Regions from separate parts of the Homo sapiens genome. Here region 1 is linked to region 2. A link means that fine-mapping ties the variant in region 2 to the expression of a gene that starts in the linked region. Tissue or cell type: testis. Region 2 holds a variant in brackets; the other region holds the start of a gene. All regions are shown on one strand. Distances are between the middles of the regions.

Region 1 (5,387 bases), 93 kb after region 2:
TTCGAGAGATTCTCCTGCCTCAGCCTCCTGAATAGCTGGGATTACAAGTGCCCACCACCACGACCGGCTAATTTTTTTTTTTTTTTGTATTTTTAGTAGAGATGAGGTTTCACCATGTTGGCCAAGCTGGTCTCGAACGCCTGACCTCAGATGATCCACCCGCCTTGGCCTCCCAAAGTGCTGGGATTACAGGCGTGAGCCACCGCGCCCAGCCAAAATCACCACATCTTTAATATCCCTAACAGTGAAGAGCCACCAGCCTTTCCCTGGGATCTATCTTTCCTTTCCAATCTTGTGGGGAAACTTGGTCTGGGATATTTTTCTTGGCTTCTTCACAGGCAGACAGCTTCAGCTGCTGAGGAGCTTTTTTTCCAGGCTCAGCTAAAATTACAGCTTAGTAGTTGAGCTGGGGAGTGGTCAGTGGGGCCTCAGCCCCCTCTTGCTTAAGGATGCCCAGTTGGTTAAACTTTTGATGATTATTACCCCCATCTCTTAGCCCTGCCTGGAAATGGCCAGGATGTGCCAGGGGAATGAGTCTTTTGCATCTACAACTGCCCCTGCCCATCAGAGCCTGGACTATTGTTTGCACACACATTCCCCCTCCATTTCTTACACTTCACGCCCCGTCTGGCCCTTTCTTTCCTCCTGGCCAGCCGGACCGGCTCAGGCGGCTGAGCATGCCTAGTGCAGCTGCGAGCATGGCCCCAGTCCCCAATGCGCAGGTGCCACGTCTCCGGGTTTTGGTGGCCGCCGGCCGGGAGAAGGAGGAGGCGGAGTGGGGAGGAGGGAGCCCTCCGGAGTTCGGGAGCAGCACGTTGTGAGGGTCCACACAAGGGTGATGCCAGACCGAACACCATTAGGGCCTGGGTGTGAGTGTGACTCGGAGGCACCTGGGGGCCGTTGTAGGGCCGGGAAAAGCCAGGAACTGGCTGGAGCAGCACCCCAGCATCCCAGGGACCAAAGTCTGGGGGATTTGCATGTCTGAGGTTGCACTTGTGGGAAGACTTTTTGGAACCACTTAATCTCTGTGGCTCTGTGTAAGACCCGCGAAATAAAAAGAGGCAGTAGTACTCTTTGGAAGATTGTTTTAGGGATTAAATGAATAAAAAGCGTTTAGAACACTGCAGGACGCATTGTAGGCGCTGTATGGGTTTATGAAACCGAATATAAACAAATAAGCACGTCCCCCACCCAGCCAACGGCTTTGGGGGCCCCGTTCTGGCCAGTCCTGAGCCCCTCCACACGGCCCACGGCGGGCTGCGGGTCTCCCATCCGAGGAGGGTGCCGCTTTTCTGCCCCCGCTCCCTGGGTTCTGCGCCCAGCGCCATCCCGTGCGCCCCCGACCCTTGGGCATGGGGCACATGCCGCGGGGAGCCGCCAGGGAGACCCCAGAGGAGCGCGCCGCGGGCCGGCTTCCCCGGATGCCCCACCCACCTCCTCTTGGCGCTGCCCACCACCTGCCTCGGCTGCTCGGCCCCCGGCTCGCGAGGCTGCGCCCCCGACCCAGTCGGCGCCCACTCCTCGCCCTGCGGGCTCGCGGCAACTGGGCGGCCGGCCCGGCCCCTGCCCACCCCCAGCCCAGCCCGGCGCGCCGCACTGGGCATGCTCCGTAGCCTGGGCAGGTTGGGGCTGCGAGGCGACAGCTCGGGCTCTGGAGCCGGGAGGCGAGAACGAGGAGGGAGGCTCGGGGGCAGGGGAGGAGGAAGCGGCTGGCCGCTGAGGGGCGGCGGGGCCCGGAGCGGGGGACGCGCAGGGCCCGGCGGTGGGCGGGCGGGTCGGCGCTGCCCCGTGGGCTCGCTGGGGAGCCACGGCGGAGACCCCCGCCCTCAACTGAGGTAAGGACCGCGCGGCGCGGAGACGGGGAGGCGGGGAGGCCAGGGAGGGGGTGCGGAGGCAGGCGGGAGGGCGGGACTGGGGTGCGCCGGGAGGGGGCTTGGCGGCGGCTCTTTATGGCGAGGAGGGGGTGGTGGCGCCGCGCCGGGAGCAGTAAGTGAGCTGCACCGCCAACAAGATCTCTCACACACAGACACACACACGCACACGCACACACGGGCGCGCACACACACGCGCGTACACACTGGGTCTCCAGGCAGCGGCCGTCGCCGCATCCCCGGCAGCAGCTCCAGGCAAAGTGACAGGTAGGAAAAGGCATTTCGGGTCCCGCCCGAGGATGCTCCCGCCCGCCTTGGCCCTCAGGGCTTGTTTGCTTTCCGCGGGTGCGTCCCGGACGCGCGCGCGCGCGCACCCGGATGCCCAGCGGGGACCCCGTGCAGGTGCCGGGTGCCAGGCGCCCTGTGCGCGCGGGAGGCAGGGGACCCAGACGCCATCCCCCTTCCCCTGCAGTCATCGCCTGCTGGGTTTCCTCAGACTCTCTCCAGACGTTCACCCTCTTCTGGGCTAGAAATAGCTCGGCTCGACGTGTATATGATTATTTTGGTTGGAAATAGTTGGCACCGTGCAACGCATGTAAATGTGTATGCGTGTGGATCTTCTTGCCTCTTCTGGGGAAATCATAGAAATGATTGACCGTTTCCACTTAAAACAACACTGACAGGCTTAGCACTCATTGGGGGCAGGGTTCGGGCCTCCTAAAAGCCTGTTAGTGAAGGAAATCCTTATTTTCAGAATTTTAAAGTTGCTTTTGCTTTAACCAATTAGACTCTGTATAGTACAATACTTCTGAGTGTAGACTTCGTATATGGTACTGAATCGAAGTATGGAAATATGGAATTCTCTAATTTCCAAGTGTGTTTAAGTGCAACTTTATCTAGAATCATAAAACTAGCATTTTCCTAGAGAGAAATACAACTGCCCACTATAGTTTCCATAAATATGGATATATCTGAAAGATGACCCTACTCTTCCAACTTTTTTTCCTCTTAACTTCTGTAGTGATTCTAGCTATTGTTCTAAAACATGTATTTGAAATTTAATTTTGGCCAGAATATTCAGGAAAGGTGTTTTTTTTTCCATATACGTAATACTTAGTGGTCTATATATTTAAGTTATAGGTATGTGGAGATAGCTGTTTAATAATTCTTTTTGTCTGGAAATAACGTTATTCAAACATAGGCAGCTATGTATCATTTTAAAATGATATTGAATTTCCCCTTAAAGAGAAATCAGATTTATAATGTAAACATGACCAGGAAAAGCAACTGGTGACTTTACCTGGGGAGGCTCCAAGGAGGTTAAGAAAGTATCTGAACAACTGTGTTTTTCAGAATAGAAAAATTGTGTGTGTGTTGCGGGGGAAGGTAAAATTTTAACTTTATTCTTTTATTGTTTTCAAGACGGCTGTTTTCAGAAATGTGTGGTTGAACTGAGACCCTCATATTTTATACTCTTCAAATTTGAGTGGCCTCAGTTATAGAATCATACAGAAGATCAAAAGTCTAGCTCAGCAGGGGCATGTGGTGTAATCCCTCACTATCTGTGTTATGTAATCCAGAATGCTGTTTTTCATAGGACAGTCTTGCATGATCCTTAGCTGGTGTATTGATCTATTATATCATCTTCCTTTTGAACTGTAGTAGTTTAATAAATGATTGCCATCTTTGGAGAGCACCTGTTTTCATAAAAAATCACTTTTTGAAATGGCAAAACATTTTTATTGGCACTTTTATGAACGTAAGACTTGCTGCCAGACGAGTAACCTTTTGAATGTGACGTATTATAACATATCTAAAGGTACCATGTATTAGCTTATGGACTACACTTCCTTCCAACTATATTATTACTCAACAGTTGGAACTTAGTTTTGATGGTATTACTACCCAGCTCTGAATTAATCGCTGTTGAAAATGCTGTTCTACAAGTAACTGTCAAAACAGAATTTCTAACTCCATTTGATCACTGGGTGCACATTTAAATCTGTCGGAATAACTCTACCTTTATTTTGCAAATGCATACCCACGCAGAAAGCTTTGTTCTAAAATACTCTATTGGAAGTTTTATATTTATATGCCTGAAAATGTGAGTGATGTTAAACTGCTTACATGTCCTGGAATCGTGAGGCGGTGTGTTTTTGCCTTATGAGATAAAGAAATATGGTAGTTGAAAAAGTGTTACAGGTTACCAAAAACCTTTTGCAGGAAAAGATTTTAAAAATTTGTATCACCTCTGAAATATTTCAACCACAGCAGAGTCCATTCAGTGCCCGTAGCACAGCTAGTTTGCCTTTCCCAAGATTACACACAACTGTCTTTAGATTAATGTATACTGCTGACTTTGGCAACATGGGACAGTTATATTTGGCAATTTCAGTAAACATGGTATTTTCCTAAGATACCACTAACTTCATTTTGGGGTTTGATTTATTAAGAATTGAAATGTTTGCCTGGTATTCATCTTTACCTCACCCTCTAAGTAAAATTGAGGTAAAAGTGAGCTTCAGGGCTGCTGTGCTGTTTTCCTTGTGATCACATTAGCATGCTAATTTGTGAAAGGATGTAACAATATAAGTGAAATTAGCTTCTGAGTTTAGTGTCTGAATTTTCATCCCCAGTTTTTCAGATGTAGCTGGAAAACTCAAATAACAGAATTAATGAAAAAATTTTGCAGATTATTAAAAAAAATTAGTAATTAGCTGAGTTTGATTTTTTATTTTGAAATCTTGAGAGTAAATTTTATCTTTTCGGATTAGAGCACTTAGGTAATGTAAGAAAGATTTTGGATTTCTCATGCTCTCCACACTTAATAGTAAACTATTTTTGAGGAAGTATAAATTTTCTTTGAAACTTAAAATTATTTAGCAGGCTGTGACTAAATTTTTGTTTGTGATCACTTATAAAGTAAGGGTGAAACAGCATGTTGATTAGCACCGCCGACCCAGGTCTTTTAATAAACTGTCTATCTACCACAGTTGAGTCCCTGTAAAACCAAGAACTTCTGTATTTGATATGCAAAATTAGGTCAAGGACTAATGGAGATGCTTTAATGATCACAGTTGGTATTTTATGTCCAGATTGAAGTTTTTAAAATAGTTGCTTTTCACCTCATAATATATGAATGTGTAGGCCATATTAGTGTCTGTCAAGGAGACTTATCTGCCTGTTGGGAAATAAATACAGCTTTTCATCGCTGGTGGGAGGCAGCAGTGACTTTCTGTGGTTTTGCTGTTGGTTTTCAGATGTGAACTGTGTTTGCAAGGACACTGCTTAATTCTCAGTGCTGTCCATTCCACATTTTCCTATTTCCCTCTCATATTGGGAAAATGAATAAACTTGTGTAGCTCTTTCTTCTATTCCTTAGTATTTGTTTGTTTAATAGTTTTGCTTTTGATAAAGCCTCACCCTTTAAAGTAGAAATACTTTCTCAAATTGTAATATTATTTATCTAGTTATGCCTTAGAATGATATAAAGGTTTTACATGTTCCTAGGCTGTG
Region 2 (5,387 bases):
ACTGAGATTCTAGCTCCTCTTAAAGATCTAAATAGGAAACATTTACCCCATCAATTGTCTCTAAGGGCAGCCACCTATGAGACTTCATCTACATAATAATAACCTCAGTCTCCACAATCCCTTATCCTTTCCTAGACACTCTGTTCTATCGATTTCAGGTCTCTTTAGATAATAACTTAATTCTTTCAACTAATGAATTGCCAATCAGAACTCCCCTCCCTTCAAGTTGTCTCCCTCCTTCAAGTCGTCCCACCTTTCTGGACCAATGTATACCTCACATGTATCTATTGATACCTTATGTCTCCCTAAAGCATATAAAACCAAGCTGTAACCCAAACATGTTGGGCACATTTTCTCAGGACCTCATGAGACTGTGCCTTGGGCCACAGTTATCATATTTGGCTCAGATTGAGAGTTTGGCTTTTTTCATTGACACTATGACCACACTATAGAAGGGAGACATTCTTGCTTTGGGTTAAAGAGATGCTTCCAAATGGGACATCTCAGGTAACCTTGGAGGGTTTGCAGTGAGCATGGGCCACTGTGGCCCCACAATGACAGCTGCCTCCCAGGGGAGGAGTGGAGTGTTTCCATTACACTTGAGTGCATCAGTCCACAAACACTTTTGATTTTAGAGAAATTCGATTTTTTTGTAACATGCAGTCATATTAAACACATATGAGGAATTTTCATCTTGCCTCAGAATCCATGGTAGAACTGGTATCTGAACTTAAAGCCAGACCAATTTAATGGCTCTGGGTATTATGGCTAAAAAACAAACAAAAACAACAACAAAAACCAAATACCAACAGCAGCAACAACAAATGCTTTTAATTGTACAAAGAGAAGAACACATCTGAGTGTTTTTAAGTAAGTCACAGACACTATATCTTTCCACCTATAATCATTTAAACATGTATCTGTAACACATTATTTTTAAAACATAACCAAAATAATAGTTTTATACCAAAAAGAACTCACAACAATTCTTAGTACCAGTAACAATATTTAGTACCAGTTCATGTTCAACTTCCCCAGTTTTCTCAAATTATTTTCTTTTTACAGTTGGTTCACAAGTTATAAGTCATGTATTATATAATGGTCCCTATCTTTTTTTTTTTTTTTTAGACAGTTTCGCTCCATTGCCCAGGCCGGAGTGCAGTGATGCCATCTCAGCTCACTGCAAATTCTGCCTCCCAGGCTCAAGCAATTTTCATGCCTCAGCCTCCCAAGTAGCTGGGATTACAGACATGCACCACCACACCCAGCTAATTTTTGCATTTTTAGTAGAGACGGGGTTTCACCATGTTGGCCAGGCTGGTCTCGAACTCCTGGCCTCATGCAATCTGCCCACCTTGGCCTCCCAAAATGCTGGATTACAGGCATGAGCCACCACGCCCAGCCCCTATCCATTTTTAAACGCCATTTATGTGTTGAAGAAATAACACATAAATTTGCCCTGTAGTATTTCCCTAATTCTGGATATGGCTGATGATTTCCTTGTCATATGTTGTGACATACTTCTCTATTTCTGTATTTCTCATAAATGGTTAGTTAGATATTATGTGATTTTAAGTTAATATCAGGCAACACAATGTTCTTGTACTTAGGGGCTACTATGAACTGAAAGTTTGTATCCCCACTAATCCCCATCAAATTAATACGTTGAAATCTTAACCCCCAATGTGGTGATATTAGATGGTGGGGCCTTTGGGAGGTGTTTGGGTCATGAGGACCCAGCCCTCATGAATTGATTAGTGCCTATATAAAAGAGACACCAAAGAGTTGCCTCATCCTCTCTCTGCTACTTTAGGGACACAAAGAAAAGTCAGCAGTCCCAGAAGAGGGCTCCCACCAGAATCCTAACATGTTAGCACTCTGCTCTCAGACTTCCAATATCCAGAACCATGAGAAATAAATTTCTGTTGTTCATAAGCCACTCAGTTTCCAGAACCATGAGAAATAAATTTCTGTTGTTCATAAGCCACCCAGTAGGTGGTACTTTGTTATAGCAGCCCAAACTAAGACAAGACAGGGGCTGCCTGGGAAGGATGCAAGGAAATGAGCATGGCTTTGAGGCTCCACAGAACCCACTCTGCTCAGCTCTGTAATTAGGCTCCACCTGTCACTTGAAGTCAACCATGCCATGATTTCTCACTTTATGCTTCTATTCCTCATAGCAAGTGGTGAGTACGCAAGAGGTTACCATGAAGATTTGACATTTGCAAAGCACTGATCTAGCATACAGTTGGTACTGTATAAACGTTTATTTTTCTTTTCCTCTCTTAGTCTCACATTTCTTGATGGTTAACTGAAATGACTAGAGTGCATGGCCTAAAATTCCTCTCCAGCTAGGAAATGCCATGACCTTTGCTAGATTTTAGCATCAGGGACTGGGTCAGTCAAATTGGCATGGAAGAAAACCCACTGCTTACACTTTCTTTCCAATATAAGAGGCTTAAAAGTTATTTTGAATTATTTTTTCATTCTACAAATGTTCACTTGTCCCCAACTGTGTGCAGAGACATCCCCCTGGGGGCATACAAAGATAATTGAGACAGTTCTTCCACTCAGTCAGCTCACAGTTTGGGAGTCGGGGAGGAAATGAACATACAAGTTAAAGAAACTATGTTAGGCTGTGTGCAGAGGCTCATGCTTGTAATCCCAGCACTTTGGGAGGCCGAGGCAGGTGGACTGCTTGAGGTCAGGAGTTCGAGACCATCCTGGCCAACGTGGCGAAACCCTGTCTCTACTAAAAATACAAAAATTAGCCGGGCATGGTGGCACACATGCCTGTAATCCCAACTACTCTGGAGGCTGAGGCACAAGAATGGCTTAAACCCAGGAGGCAGAGGTTGTAGTGAGCCGAGATCGAGTCACTGCATTCCAGCCTAGGCGACAGAGTAAGACCCTGTCTCAAAAACAAACAAACAAACAAAAACAAACAAACAAAAACGCACCTCCCTCGGACCTCTAGTATAGCTTTTTTTTTTTTTTTTTGACAGAGTTTCACTCTGGTTGCCCAGGCTAGAGTTCAATGGCATGATCTCGTCACTGCAACCTCTGACTCCCAGGTTCAAGCTATCCTCCAGCCTCAGACTCCCACATAGCTGAGATTACAGGCA[C/G]GCACCACCACGCCTGGCTAATTTTGTATTTTTAGTAGATACAAGGTTTCACTATGTTGGTCAGGCTGGTCTCAAACTCATGACCTCAAATGATCCACCCACCTTGGCCTCCCAAAGTGCTGGGATTACAGGCATGAGCTACCGTGCCCGGTCGGGAGGTACGTTCTTTAGAAGAGCAATATAGAAAACAAAGACAACATCAACATTCAGCTTGTGTTTGAGTAACTCTTCTGTCAGTGGGGGTGGGTTTGGGCTAGTCATGAATTATTAGGAAATACTCAACAGATAGAAATAAGAGATTGGGACCAAAGGACACTGTGTTTGGGACGAGGCCGGCATACTCTCATTGCCAACCAGGGGAGTTCATGAGAATGCTGCCTCCAAGGCTAGCTTCATAGAAGACAGCATTGAAAAAGTTGGGAATGGACAGTTGGGACAGTTGGGATGGGTGCAATGTATGATGATTTGGAGAGTTAGTCAAAGTAAAAAGTTGAGAATACAATGTAAAAGAAAGGAAGAAATCTATCTCTAAAAGTTCTAAGCAAGCAGAGTAATGAATGTTTCATTTTACACAATTAGCATTTTCTAAGCTTCGCAAAGATAGCGGAGTCAGGATAACCAAGTTCAGTTACATAAAAAAGAAACATCTGACCTTGACAGGCAGTTTCCTATGTCAAGGTCTTACCATCAATTTTGTTTATAGATTATTGCTTTTCACACATTGTACAATAAACATACACCTATAAGCACATACAGTTTATACACACCCATACATATATACACATTTATATTAGGGATACTTAATGTTATATTACACATGATAATACTAATAGTGTGATAAACTATTAAGTATAGTAAAGCCATAAGTCTATGATATATAAGTACTATATAGCACATTTGTTAAAGAAGACTGGGGTCCTAAAATTTTTTAAAATTATGTTTTCTACAGTTCTTAAATCCTCTCAAGCACAGTATTCAAAACTATTATAGATAACTTGAGACAACATCCTGTGCATTTGCACAGAAGCATCATAATATAATTCTATCACTGACTTTCCCCGAATCAGAAAAGAAAAATCAGAATTTAAAAATGCCATGAAATAACAGGACAATCATCTTAGTGACAAATGGTGGACCTCCAAACAGCTGCCTGCCCTCCTTCCATATGAATACACTAAAGAACCCATCTGAAATTATTTCTTGGTATTAAGAAAATACAAGCAATGTTCAAATATCAAGAGCTTTTAAGAAAAAGAGAGAATTGCTTATTCCATGATCCATTTCAATGCTTGATACATTTTATTGACACATCATTTAAAAAGGTATAATTGGATGTGAGATAATTTTATCAGAATGCAATGGTATGTTTAACCAAGATCCCCCTGTGACAATCATCTAGTAAATAAGTAACGTGGATTCATCCATTGAGAAATACAACACCCTACACCTCAACCAATGGGTTGGTGCCCAAGTAGCTAACACAAAAATCAGATCACTCGTACTATGGCCCATTCAGAAAATTACCAAAATAACTACTACAACCCTCATGAACATGAAATGAGGACTTGAGTATACAGTTGCTAAAAGGGTCTGTGGCTTGTTGTAACTACGAATTTAAATATTTGGAAGCCCTCTGTAGTGACACCCTACATCCCCGAATCTCCTATATCAGGGGTCAAAAAAATTTCACATAAAGGGCAGATAGTAAATATTTTCAGCTTTGTGGGCCATTCAGTCTCAGTTGATCACAACTATTCAAGTCATAGAAAATATGTAAATGAATGTGCATGATTGTGTTCTAATAAACTTTATTTACAAAGCACAGGGCTGGCTGGATTTGGCCCATCGGCCATACTTGGTTAACCACTGCCTATATTTTCCTGACTAATTGAAATGAAATTTCTTCTTTAATATGCACTTTCACAAAAGAAGAATAAAAGGAAAAAAGAAGCAAAACTCAATAATGTAAATTTGATTCATTTGGGGCAAGTGGGTACCTTATTAATTATTTTTATATTATTTTATTGAGGGGATCATAGAAACATGATTTCAAGTGGACTCTAGTTTCTAGGAGTTAGCCACATGCTGAAATTGGGATTAAATGTAACATTCATTAATCTTGAGTTTGGTGGGAAGTATTTCCTTCTATTCTTTTTTTTTTTTTTACTTTAAGTTCTGGGATACATGTGCAGAATGTGCAGGTTTTTTACATAGGTGTACATGTGCCATGGTGGTTTGCTGCACCTATTAACCCTTCATCTA

Alleles and levels. Alleles are on the strand shown, and positions count from the first base shown. SD is a standard deviation of normalised expression in the study named.
In carriers of allele C in region 2, the expression in testis of the gene that starts at base 2,019 in region 1 tends to be lower than with G alone (moderate effect, 0.40 SD a copy in GTEx).

The links. PIP is the estimated chance that this variant, and not a neighbour inherited with it, causes the effect.
Region 1: PLCB4 starts here. The variant in region 2 is fine-mapped to the expression of PLCB4 in testis (GTEx, PIP 0.99).

Annotation. Positions count from the first base shown.
Region 1 is chr20:9,067,069-9,072,455 of GRCh38, forward strand. PLCB4 (phospholipase C beta 4) reads left to right here and starts at 2,019. Exons shown (of 40, transcript NM_001377142.1): 1 at 2,019-2,138.
Region 2 is chr20:8,974,488-8,979,874 of GRCh38, forward strand. No RefSeq gene overlaps it. Among named protein-coding and RNA genes, the nearest start is that of PLCB4, 92 kb to the right of the region's middle. The variant C/G (reference allele first, on the strand shown) is at 3,126.